2 separate regions of the Homo sapiens genome follow, and region 1 is linked to region 2. The links come from fine-mapping of genetic effects on plasma protein levels. Region 2 holds a variant in brackets. A gene starts in the other region. All regions are shown on their reverse strands.

Evidence for each region. PIP is the posterior inclusion probability: the model's chance that the variant is causal. Protein levels are from antibody-based Olink assays in UK Biobank. Linkage for the fine-mapping came from a reference panel and not from the study's own genotypes, which makes the PIPs less certain.
Region 1: it holds the start of IFNL1, and the variant in region 2 is fine-mapped to the plasma level of the IFNL1 protein (UK Biobank, PIP above 0.99).

The regions. Positions count from the first base shown.
Region 1 is chr19:39,294,338-39,299,713 of GRCh38, reverse strand. It overlaps IFNL1 (interferon lambda 1), which reads right to left and starts at 3,307. Exons shown (of 5, transcript NM_172140.2): 1 at 3,122-3,307; 2 at 2,832-2,909; 3 at 1,607-1,750; 4 at 1,418-1,501; 5 at 1,041-1,323. The coding sequence starts at 3,292. The coding sequence ends at 1,198.
Region 2 is chr4:186,081,026-186,086,335 of GRCh38, reverse strand. TLR3 (toll like receptor 3) reads right to left here. Exons shown (of 5, transcript NM_003265.3): 4 at 2,164-4,016; 5 at 1-1,691. The coding sequence ends at 1,463. Among named protein-coding and RNA genes, the nearest start is that of TLR3, 15 kb to the right of the region's middle. The variant G/A (reference allele first, on the strand shown) is at 3,416.

The sequences.
Region 1 (5,376 bases), not on the chromosome of region 2:
TCATCTAAATGCTTCTTCACTCGCATGTCTGGTTCCTGAGCTGGGGTGATTCAAAAGCTATACTGGGACTATCAGATGGAGTACCTATATGTGGTCTCTCTGTATGTCTGGGCTTCTCACACCATTGTGGTTAGGTTCCAGGATGTAGCATCCTGACCGCTTTTCTTTTCTTTTCTTTCTTTTTTTTTTTTTCTTTCTCGAGACGGAGTTTCACTCTTGTTGCCCAGGCTGGAGTGCAATGGCGTGATCTCCGCTCACCACAACCTCCACCTCCCGGGTTCAAGCGATTCTCCTGCCTCAGCTTCCCGAGTAGCTGGGATTACAGGTATGCATCACCACACCCGGCTAATTTTTGTATTTTTAGTAGAGATGGGGTTTCTCCATGTTGGTCAGGTTGGTCTCAAACTCCCGACCTCAAGTGATCTGCCCGCCTTGGCCTCCCAAAGTGCTAGGATTACAGGCCTGAGCCCACGGAGGCTGGCCTTTTTTTTTTTTTTTTTTTTTTTTTTTTTTTTTTTTTTAAGATGGAGTTTCTCTCTTGGTGGCCAGGCTGGAGTGCAGTGATGTGATCTCGGCTCACCACAACCTCCACCTCCCGGGTTCAAGCATTTCTCTTGCCTCAGCCTCCCGAGTAGCTGGGATTACGGGGTCATGCCACAACTCCCGGCTAATTTTTGTACTTTTAGTAGAGACAGGGTTTCACCATGTTGGCTAAGCTGGTCTCAAATTCCTGACCTCAAGTGATCTGCCTGCCTCAGCCTCCCAAAGCACTGGGATTACAGGTGTGAGCCACCATGCCTGGCAGTACACACACATACTTGCACACGTGTGGGCATGAACATGCACAGTTACGCACCTTTGGTTAGACTCAAGTTCAGGCAGACACTCATTTCCATACAAATACATACATAGTCACAGAAGTCAGGCACACACAAATATACACAACGAGTCACAAATTTTGCCTGCATCACCCAGACATCCACACCCAGTCACAGACCCACAATCACACACACACTCAAGGATTCACCTATCACAGAAGGTTCCAATTCCTTGTTGTTTATTTGTGCATAATGTATAAAAGTAAAACAATAAACTCAGCCCTATGTCTCAGTCAGGGCTGCAGCTTCATAAATAAAGGGTGAGAGGAAATAAATTAAGGAAGGAGTAGGGCTCAGCGCATAAATAAGGTGTGGGGTGTCAGGTGGACTCAGGGTGGGTTGACGTTCTCAGACACAGGTTCCCATCGGCCACATATTTGAGGTCTCGCGTGAGGAGGCGGAAGAGGTTGAAGGTGACAGATGCCTCCAGGCAGCCAGCGGACTCCTGTAGGGGAGGAGGGGATGGGTCAGGGGCTGTCCAGGGTCTGGGCTCCTATTGGCTCCCCAGACCCTGGTCCTTCTCTTCCTGGGTCACTCACCTTTTTGGGGGCCTCCTGGAGCCGGTGCAGCCAGTGGTGGAGGCGGCCCCGGGGCCTGGGCCCTGCTGTGGGCTGAGGCTGGATCTGTGGGCAGAAGAGGGCGGTGTGTGAGGCGGAGCCTGGGCCACCACAGGGGAAGGATGCTGCTCAGAGCCCACAGACCTGGGTGCCCGGGCCCCAAGGACTCACACAGGCCTGGAGCTGGGAGAGGATGTGGTGCAGGGTGTGAAGGGGCTGGTCTAGGACGTCCTCCAGGGCTGGGCCAGCAGCGGCCTCCAGGACCTTCAGCGTCAGGGCCAGCTCAGCCTCCAAGGCCACAGGGCGCTCCCTCACCTGAGGAGAGGTGAGAAAGAGCAGGTGAGGGAGAACAGGCAAGAAGACCCAGTTAGTGGGGACAGGTAGGCAGTCCTGGGGAAGGTCGGTGACACAGTGCATGTGGTGGGGACAGGTGAGGGGTCTGGGGAGAAGGAGACAGGAGGGGGAAGACATGAGGAAGGATACAGGTGAGGCAGGATGGTCAAGGAGGCAGGTGAGGGGATAAGTGAAATGGAGACAAATGAAAGGGGACTTACGGGGGTCACAGAAGTTCTCTGGGGCGGGGTGGGGACGGGTGAGGAGAAAGCAGGTTGGGGGCACAGTAAGAGAGGGACAGTTGCATGCACAGAGAAGAAGGGTAGGGCTGGGTGTGGTGGCTCACGCCTGTAATCCCAGCACTTTGGGAGGCCGAGGCGGGTGGATCACCTGAGGTCAGGATTTCGAGACCAAGCCTGGCCAACATAGTGAAACCCCGTCTCTGCTAAAAATACAAAAATTAGCTGGGCATCATGGCACATGCCTGTAATCCCAGCTACTCGGGAGGCTGAGGCAGGATAATTGCTTGAACCCGGGAGGCAGAGGTTGCAGTGAACCGAGATCATGCCACTGCACTCCAGCCTGGGCCATAGAGCAAGACTCTGTCTCAAAAAAAAAAAAAAAAAAAAAAAAAAGAGAAGGGTGGATGAGGGGGGAGCATGAGCTGGATGAATGTCAGTGAGAGATAATGAGGGACAGGTGACAGAGGCAGGTGAGAGGGAGAGGGGGTCAGTGTTGGGAACAGACAGGGAGAAGTGGAGCAGGACGAAAGGCACAGGTGGGCGACAGACTGGAGACATTTGGGAGAGAAATGAAGAGTGAGAGTGGAAGTGACAGGGACAGGTGAGCGAGCTAGGGAAGTGGGGCCGATGGGAGATGATAAAAGGGACCCAGGGGAAGGACAGAGTCAAGAGAGCAGTTTTGAAGTGGCAGGGGCACAGGACAGGTGAGGAGAGGTCCAAGAGAGTGAAGGACAAGGGAAACAAAGAAGGCTAAGGGGCCACTTAAGAAGAGGGGGGAGAGGGTCAAGGGAAGGGTGAAGGGGGCCTGACTTTCAGCTCACCTGGAGAAGCCTCAGGTCCCAATTCCCGGGGAAGACAGGAGAGCTGCAACTCCAGTTTTTCAGCTTGAGTGACTCTTCCTAGAGAGCAAGGGCAGGGGTTAGCCCACAGCAGGATGGCTGGAAGCTAGCTCATAGCAGCAAGGATGAAGTTGGCCTGACAGCATGGGTTTAACCCAGTGCAGAAAGGATAGAGGTTTGCCATAGTTGGAAGGCTAGAGGCTAGCCCACAGTAGAAGGGCAGTAATTGGGACACCCGTAGAAGTGGTTCATCCACAGCAACAGGAACTCACCAAGGCGTCCCTGGCCTTCTTGAAGCTCGCTAGCTCCTGTGGTGACAGAGATTTGAACCTGCCAATGTGGCAGCCCTTCCCAGTTGTGGTGGGCTTGGAAGTGGGGACAGGGCCTGCCACGGCCAAGCCTAGCACCAAAGTCACCAGCACCACGGTCCAAGCTGCAGCCATGGCTAAATCGCAACTGCTTCCCCAGCGGCATGGCTCTGCTTTTTAGCCACGCAAAATGGGCAATCCAAGATGATGTGTGTAAAGTGAAAAGGTAATTGGAAATGAGAATTTCCACTTTGACTTAAGAGGCATGAGTGGGCGGGGCCCGTCTGGGAGCCTGATGAGGGAACAGGTGTGGGCAGGGCCAAGTGAGCTGGGAGCTGCATCAAGAAGGAAAGAGAAACTGAAATCCTTAGAACTCCCTGGGCAGCTTTCAGCCAACTGGCCTCAGGGAGTCCCTGACGGAGGCTGAGATTAGGGATAAGGCTACCTGAGTGGCAGAGAGGAAGCTTCTTTTTTATTCTAAATTAGCCAGGTGTGGTGGCATGCGCCTGTGGTCTCAGCTACTCAGGAGGCCGAGGCATGAGAATCACTTGAACCCGGGAGGCGGAGGTTGCAGTGAGCCAAGATCGTGCCACTGCACTCCAGCCTGGGTGATGGAGTGAGATCCTGTTTCAAAAAAAAAAAAGCTTGTTTTTTATTTTATTGTTATTATTATTTTTTGAGACGTAGTTTTGCTCTTGTTGCCCAGGCTGGAGTGCAATGGTGCAATCTTGGCTCACTGCAACTTCTGCCTCCCGAGTTGAAGCGATTCTCCTGCCTCAGCCTCCTAAGTAGTTGGGATTACAGGTGCATGCCATCACGCCTGGCTAGTTTTTGTATTTTTAGTAGAGACTGGGTTTTACTATGTTGGTCACGCTGGCTTCGAACTCCTGACTTCAGATGATCTGCCTGCCTTGGCCTCCCAAAGTGCTGGGATTACAGGCGTGAGCCACCACCTTACTTTATTATTTATTTATTTATTTTTGTAGAGATAGGGGTCTCACTATGTTGCCCAGGCCAGTCTTGAACTCCTGGCCTTAAGCCATCCTCCTGCTTCAGCCTCGCAAAGTGCTAGTATTAAAGGCATGAGCCACTGCTCCTGGCCAAGAAGGAGCTTCTGCCATTGGTTTAAGAATGTCCCATTAACTAATTTCAGTTCATGCTCCTAATGTTTCTCTGAGTAGTTATTTTTATAATTGTGATGGTTAATTTTAGGTGTCACCTTGACTGGTTAAGTTTATCAGATAGCTGGTGATGCGTTAATTCTGGGTATGACTCTGGGGTGTTTCCAGAAGAGATTGGCATTTGAATCAATGGACTGAGTAAGGAAGACCCGTTGTTACCCAATGTGGTGGGCACCATCCAATTGGCCGAGGGCCTGAATAGAACAAAAAGGCAGAGGAAAGGAGAATTTGCTCTCTCTTATGAGCTGGGACACCCTGCACCTGCCCTTAAACATCAGAACTCCAGGCTCTTTGGTCTTTGAATGCTGGGATGTGCAGCTGGGCATGGTGGCTCACGCCTGTAATCCCAGCAGTTTGGGAGGCTGAGGCAGGTGAATCACTTGAGGTCAGGAGTTCGAGACCAGCCTGGCCAACATGGTGAAACCCCATCTCTACTAAAAATATAAAAATCAGCCAGGCGTGGTGGCACAGGCCTGTAGTCCCAGCTACTTGGGAGGCTGAGGCAGGAGTATCGCTTGAACCCTGGAGGCGGAGGCTGCAGTGAGCTGAGATCATGTCACTGCACTCCAGCCTGGTCAACAGAGTGAGACTCCATCTCAGAAAAAAAAAAAATGCTGGGACTTGCACTAGCTACCCCCTAAGTCCTGAGGCTTTTATTCTGGAACTGAGCTGCACTACAAGCTTCCCTGGTTCTCCAGCTTGCAGATGGCCTGTTGTGGAACTTCTTAGCCTCCCTAATTGTCTGAGCCAATTCCCCTAATAAATCCCCTCCTATCTCTCTCTCATCTATCTAGTCTCTCTCTCTCTCTCTCTCTCTCTCTCTCTCTATCTAGTCTATCTCTCTCATCTATCTAGTCTATATCTCTCTATCTATCATCTATTTATCCAAACATCCTATTTGTTCTGTCTCTCTGGAGAACCCTGACTAATACAATAATCATGCCCATTTTACTAGTGAGATAACTGAGGCATAGGAAGGCAAAGTGACTTGCCTAAGGTCCCACAGTGGGATAGAGGCAGAAATGGGGTATGATGAGT
Region 2 (5,310 bases):
CAAATGAACATTTCAGGTATAGAAATTAACTCAGCTTTATAATTTCAGGTTTCTCTTTAAATACTAGAACTATAAATATTTCAAAAAGCTATTCAGGTCTATTTCCAATAATCAGATTCTCTTTTATTGTAAAACTAAAAATTTTTTGTTGTATTGTAAAACAAAATAAAAAGGCGGGGCGCGGTGGCTCACACCTGTAATCCTAGCACTTTGGGAGGCCAAGGCGAGAGGATCACTTGAGGTCAGGAGTTCAAGACCAGCCTGGCCAACATGGTGAAACCCCATCTCTACTAAAAATACAAAAATTAGCCAGGCATGGTGGCATGTGCCTGTAATCCCAGCTACTCGGGTGGCTGAGGCAGGAGAATAGCTTGAACTCAGAGGTGGAGGTTGCGGTGGGCCGAGGTTGGACCACTGAACTCCAGCCTGGGCGACAGAGCCAGACTCTGTCTCAAAAACAAACAAATAAAAAACAAACAAACAAAAAAACAAAAATAAAAATAGTCTTTCTAGATAAGGACTACCTTATGCGTAGCACATTATTTTATGGTAAAATAATACATTCCTTTGAATATATTATACAGCGATCATCATCACTAATTACATAGGAATATCTAAGATGCATTTATTATCATAATTTTCAAGATCAGGAGTCAAAGAATCCCAGTGGGACCAAGTGATTTTGCCAACGCCATCTCCTGAGTCTGTGACCATGGGAGGAAAGTTCTGTTTCCACAAAGCCAAATAGTGATTAGCCTTCAGAAAGCAAGCCTGCCTACAATACTTTTAGTAAGAGAATTGTTTCCACCCTCCCACAGCAGAAACTCATAATCTCAGGAAAATACAAGTCAATATTCATTCAAATAATCATCTCATTAACTAATAAAAATGAATTGCAAATGTTTTCTGCCCTTGGGTATGTATATTAAAAAATATTTAACATTTAACAAAGTCAACACTGAGACAAGTACTTACTAAAATACAAAGTTTTTCCATTGAAAAAATACTGTAATTAAACTTGTTAAAAATATGGGTATATATTTTACTCTTTTACAAAGGAAATAGCATTATACCCATTGAAACAATTATCTTTCATTCTAAGTGCATCCAAAATACAAAAAGATCATCACAAACCCTCATATACCTCTAACTTTTCTTAAAATGAGGAATGTTTTCAAACTCCTTAAGCTGTCATAGGCTCAGTGGCTGATTGTATATTAATCAGTAGACAATGTTCTTACGTGCTTATATGTTTTATTTTGGGTAAAATTAAGTCAATTGTCAAAAATAGGCCTGAAATAAGGAGACACATTTTCCTAGAAGAGATGTAATTGTGATAGAATATAATCATTTACAAATATGAATAAACAAATTATAACACCTTTATGGAAAACTTAAATTTGCCATAGAACTTTTTAAATTGAGAAAGTTTCTCCTTTGCTAATTGAATATTTAAATAAATTTAATGTACAGAGTTTTTGGATCCAAGTGCTACTTGCAATTTATGACGAAAGGCACCTATCCGTTCTTTCTGAACTGGCCAGTTCAAGATGCAGTGAGATTTAAACATTCCTCTTCGCAAACAGAGTGCATGGTTCAGTTTATAATCTGGAATCTCCTCAAGGAAAACCAATATAATGGAATCCAGATTTTGTTCAATAGCTTGTTGAACTGCATGATGTACCTTGAATCTAAGTAAAAAAATGTATTGAAGAATTAATATACGGTTTTTAACAGCCAGAAGCAATACTATTTAAAAATACTCTGTAGAGTTTAAACTGTTACTGAAACTCAGGTTTTTTTTTTCTTAATTTTATTTTAAAAATTCTTTGAGTTGTGAGTAATATTGGTAATATTTAAAAGTTTAATTGAAGCTCACCTGAGGCCAGGAGTTCAAGATAAGCCTGGCCAACACGGTGAAACCCCATCTCTAATAAAAATACAAAAATTAGCCAGGCTTGGTGGCGCGTGCCTGTAATCCCAACTACTTGAGAGGCTGAGGCAGGAGAATTACTTGAACCCAGGAGGTGGAGGCTGCAGTAAGCTGAGATCACACCACTGCACTCCAGCCTGGGCAACAGAGCAGGACTCCATCTCAAAAAAAAAAAAAGAAATTTAATTGAAAAGCAAGTACACACTTAAAATTTCACAATGTTTACCTACCTTTTGCATAATGGGTCTTTTAATAGATGGTGTGTTATAACAAAAATAATTTTTCTGCTTCTTTTGATGCTGTTAACAATTGCTTCTAGTTCAAAAACACCCGCCTCAAAGTCCCTTTCTTCCAGACAAAATTTGAGAGATTGGTCTTCCTTTTCCATTGAAGAGAAATGTTCCCAGACCCAATCCTTATCTTTATAGGCATGAATTATATATGCTGCATATTCAAACTGTTCTGTCTGTCTGTCTATTTCTTTGAAACCAAGAACTCGATGTACTGAAACATTCCAATAAAAAGATATCCTCCAGCCCTCAAAGTGGATGAGAAGTACAATAAAGATAAAAATCAACAGGATACTGGTATTGATCATGAAAAAGAGTTCAAAGGGGGCACTGTCTTTGCAAGATGATGTATCAAAAAGTCTCACTGGGAACCCATGATAGTGAGGTGGAGTGTTGCAAAGGTAGTGGCTTGACAGCTCAGGGATGTTGGTATGGGTCTCGTTAATCCAATTAACAAACCAGGCAATACTTTCACACGTGCAATCAAAGGGATTAAAGCGCATATCTAACTCAGTCAGGTTCCTGAAAGCTGGCCCGAAAACCTTCTTCTCAACGGATGTTATGAGATTCTTCTGAAGGTTCAATGACTTTAGAGACACCTGATTATTAAAGACAGATGCTGGAAGTGTGTTTAAATTATTCAATCCTAAATCGATGATCTTTAGTTCAAATAAATCCTTGAAGACCTCAACTGGGATCTCGTCAAAGCCGTTGGACTCCAAGTTAAGGATGTGGAGGTGAGACAGACCCTTTAGGAAATAAATGGGACCACCAGGGTTTGCGTGTTTCCAGAGCCGTGCTAAGTTGTTATGCTGCAAATCGAGAATTTCTAGTTTCTCAAGACCCTCCAACATGTCATCATTTATGTTGGCTATGTTGTTGTTGCTTAGATCCAGAATGGTCAAGTTACGAAGAGGCTGGAATGGTGAAGGAGAGCTATCCACATTTTTAAGGGCCACCCTTCGGAGCATCAGTCGTTGAAGGCTTGGGACCAAGGCAAAGGAGTTCCTAGTCAGCTGCAGGTACTTGTTGTAGGAAAGATAGATTTCGAAAATATTTTCTAGACCTCTCCATTCCTGGCCTGTGAGTTCTTGCCCAATTTCATTAAGGCCCAGGTCAAGTACTTCTAGGTGGCCCAACCAAGAGAAAGCATCACTCTCTATTTTTGAGATTTTATTCTTGGTTAGGTTGA[G/A]TATGTGTAAGGGAGAATGAGCAAGTGATACAAATGTTTCATTTGTCAAAGTTCGCAAACTTGTAAAGGAGTTGGATAGACTTAAGTATTTCAGGTTTATCAATCCTGTGAACATATTGCTTTTTATGCCTGGAATATCATTATCTTCCATGTTAAGGTGCTCCAAACATTTTAGCCACTGAAAAGAAAAATCATCAATCTTGGGGAGTGAGGCAAGGGAAATACTTTGTTTAGTAAAAGACCGTTTCAAATTCAGGTACCTCACATTGAAAAGCCCGTGCAAAGAGTGAGAAAACAAATGCTGTATATTATTATACTCTAGGAAGAAATATTCTAGTTGTGGAAGCCAAGCAAAGGAATCGTTACCAACCACATTTAAGTTGTTGTAGGAAAGATCGAGCATAGTGAGATTTGTCCACTTTAGTCCCAAGAAAGTTGTATTGCTGGTGGTGGACAGCTGGCTGTTACTCAGAGACAGATTCCGAATGCTTGTGTTTGCTAATTCCAAACATAGCTTCTCTGTAAGGCTGGGACCCAGCTGGACATTGTTCAGAAAGAGGCCAAATAATCTTCCAATTGCGTGAAAACACCCTGGAGAAAACTAAAGGTAGGAAAAAAAAAGAGGTTAACAATCAAAAGAACACAGACTCTGTAATGCTGTTGAAAGCCTTTTTTTTTTTTTTTTTTTTTTTTTTTGAGACGGAGTCTCGCTCTGTCGCCCAGGCTGGAGTACAGCAGTGCAATCTCAGCTCACTGCAAACTCCACCTCCTCAGTTCAAGCAATTCTCCTGCCTCAGCCTCCCGAGTAGCTGGGATTACAGGCATGCGCCACCACGTCCAGCTAAGTTTTGTATTTTTAGTAGAGTCGGGGTTTCACCGTGTAGGCCAGGCTGGTCTTGAACTCCTGACCTCATGATCCGCCCGCCTCAGCCTCCCAAAGTGCTGGGATTATAGGCCTGAGCCGCTGCACCCGGCCAGATGCAGTTCTTTACTCCATCTCCGCTCACCCTTCACCACATCCCATGGGCAGAGCATTTCTCCCCCTTCCTGTAATGCACGAGTCCTTCCTTACTCGGTTCCTGCAGCGCCCACCTCTTACTCCAGCCTCTGACCTCCCCTGGCCACGGGCTAACTTCTGCTCAGCATTCACAGCCTCAGCTTAGATGCCACCTTTTCAGGGAGGCTTCTCTGACCTTCCAGTCCAGGATCCATCTCCTGGTACTTTTTCTTTATCACCATGAGAACAATTGCAATGAATAAACTGCTCGTGAAGTCACTCCTGGGGCAGTTCCTGGTTGTGTCTTGGTGCCGCTGTTCTCAGTGAGCCTCATGGAAGGAAGTTGTGGATGGCTTTTATGATGAGGCGGTGACGGCACACTTTCCTTTCTGGAACTCTGAGCTCTAGCTCTCCCTCTCGTCTTTCCACCCGGATTTTCTCCTGACTTTCTTTTACTATCGTGTTTTTCCAGCTCCCTTCTGCTCCGTCCTACACCCTTACCAGAGCCTTGGCTGTTCTGGGACTCACTTCGGGGACAAGAGAACAGCAGGTGGGAGAGGAGGAATCCAGAGAGAATGGAGGCCAGTTCCGGCAGGCAGTCGAAACCGCCAGAGGAGTAAAGGGCTCTGATTTCTTTTTCTTTTTTTTTTTTTTTGAGACAGAGTTTCGCTCTGTCCCCCAGGGTGGAGTGCAGTGGTGCGATCTCAGCTCCCTGCAACCCTTGCCTCCTGGGTTCAAGCGATTCTCTTGCCTCAGCCTCCTGAGTAGCTAAGATTGATGTCTCCTGCTCTTTAGATTTAATATCATATTATGAACATCTCCCATACAATTAAGAAGCATTCCAAAGCTTAATTTTAATGCCTGTAAAATAATGCTATCATGCAGATTTATCATACTT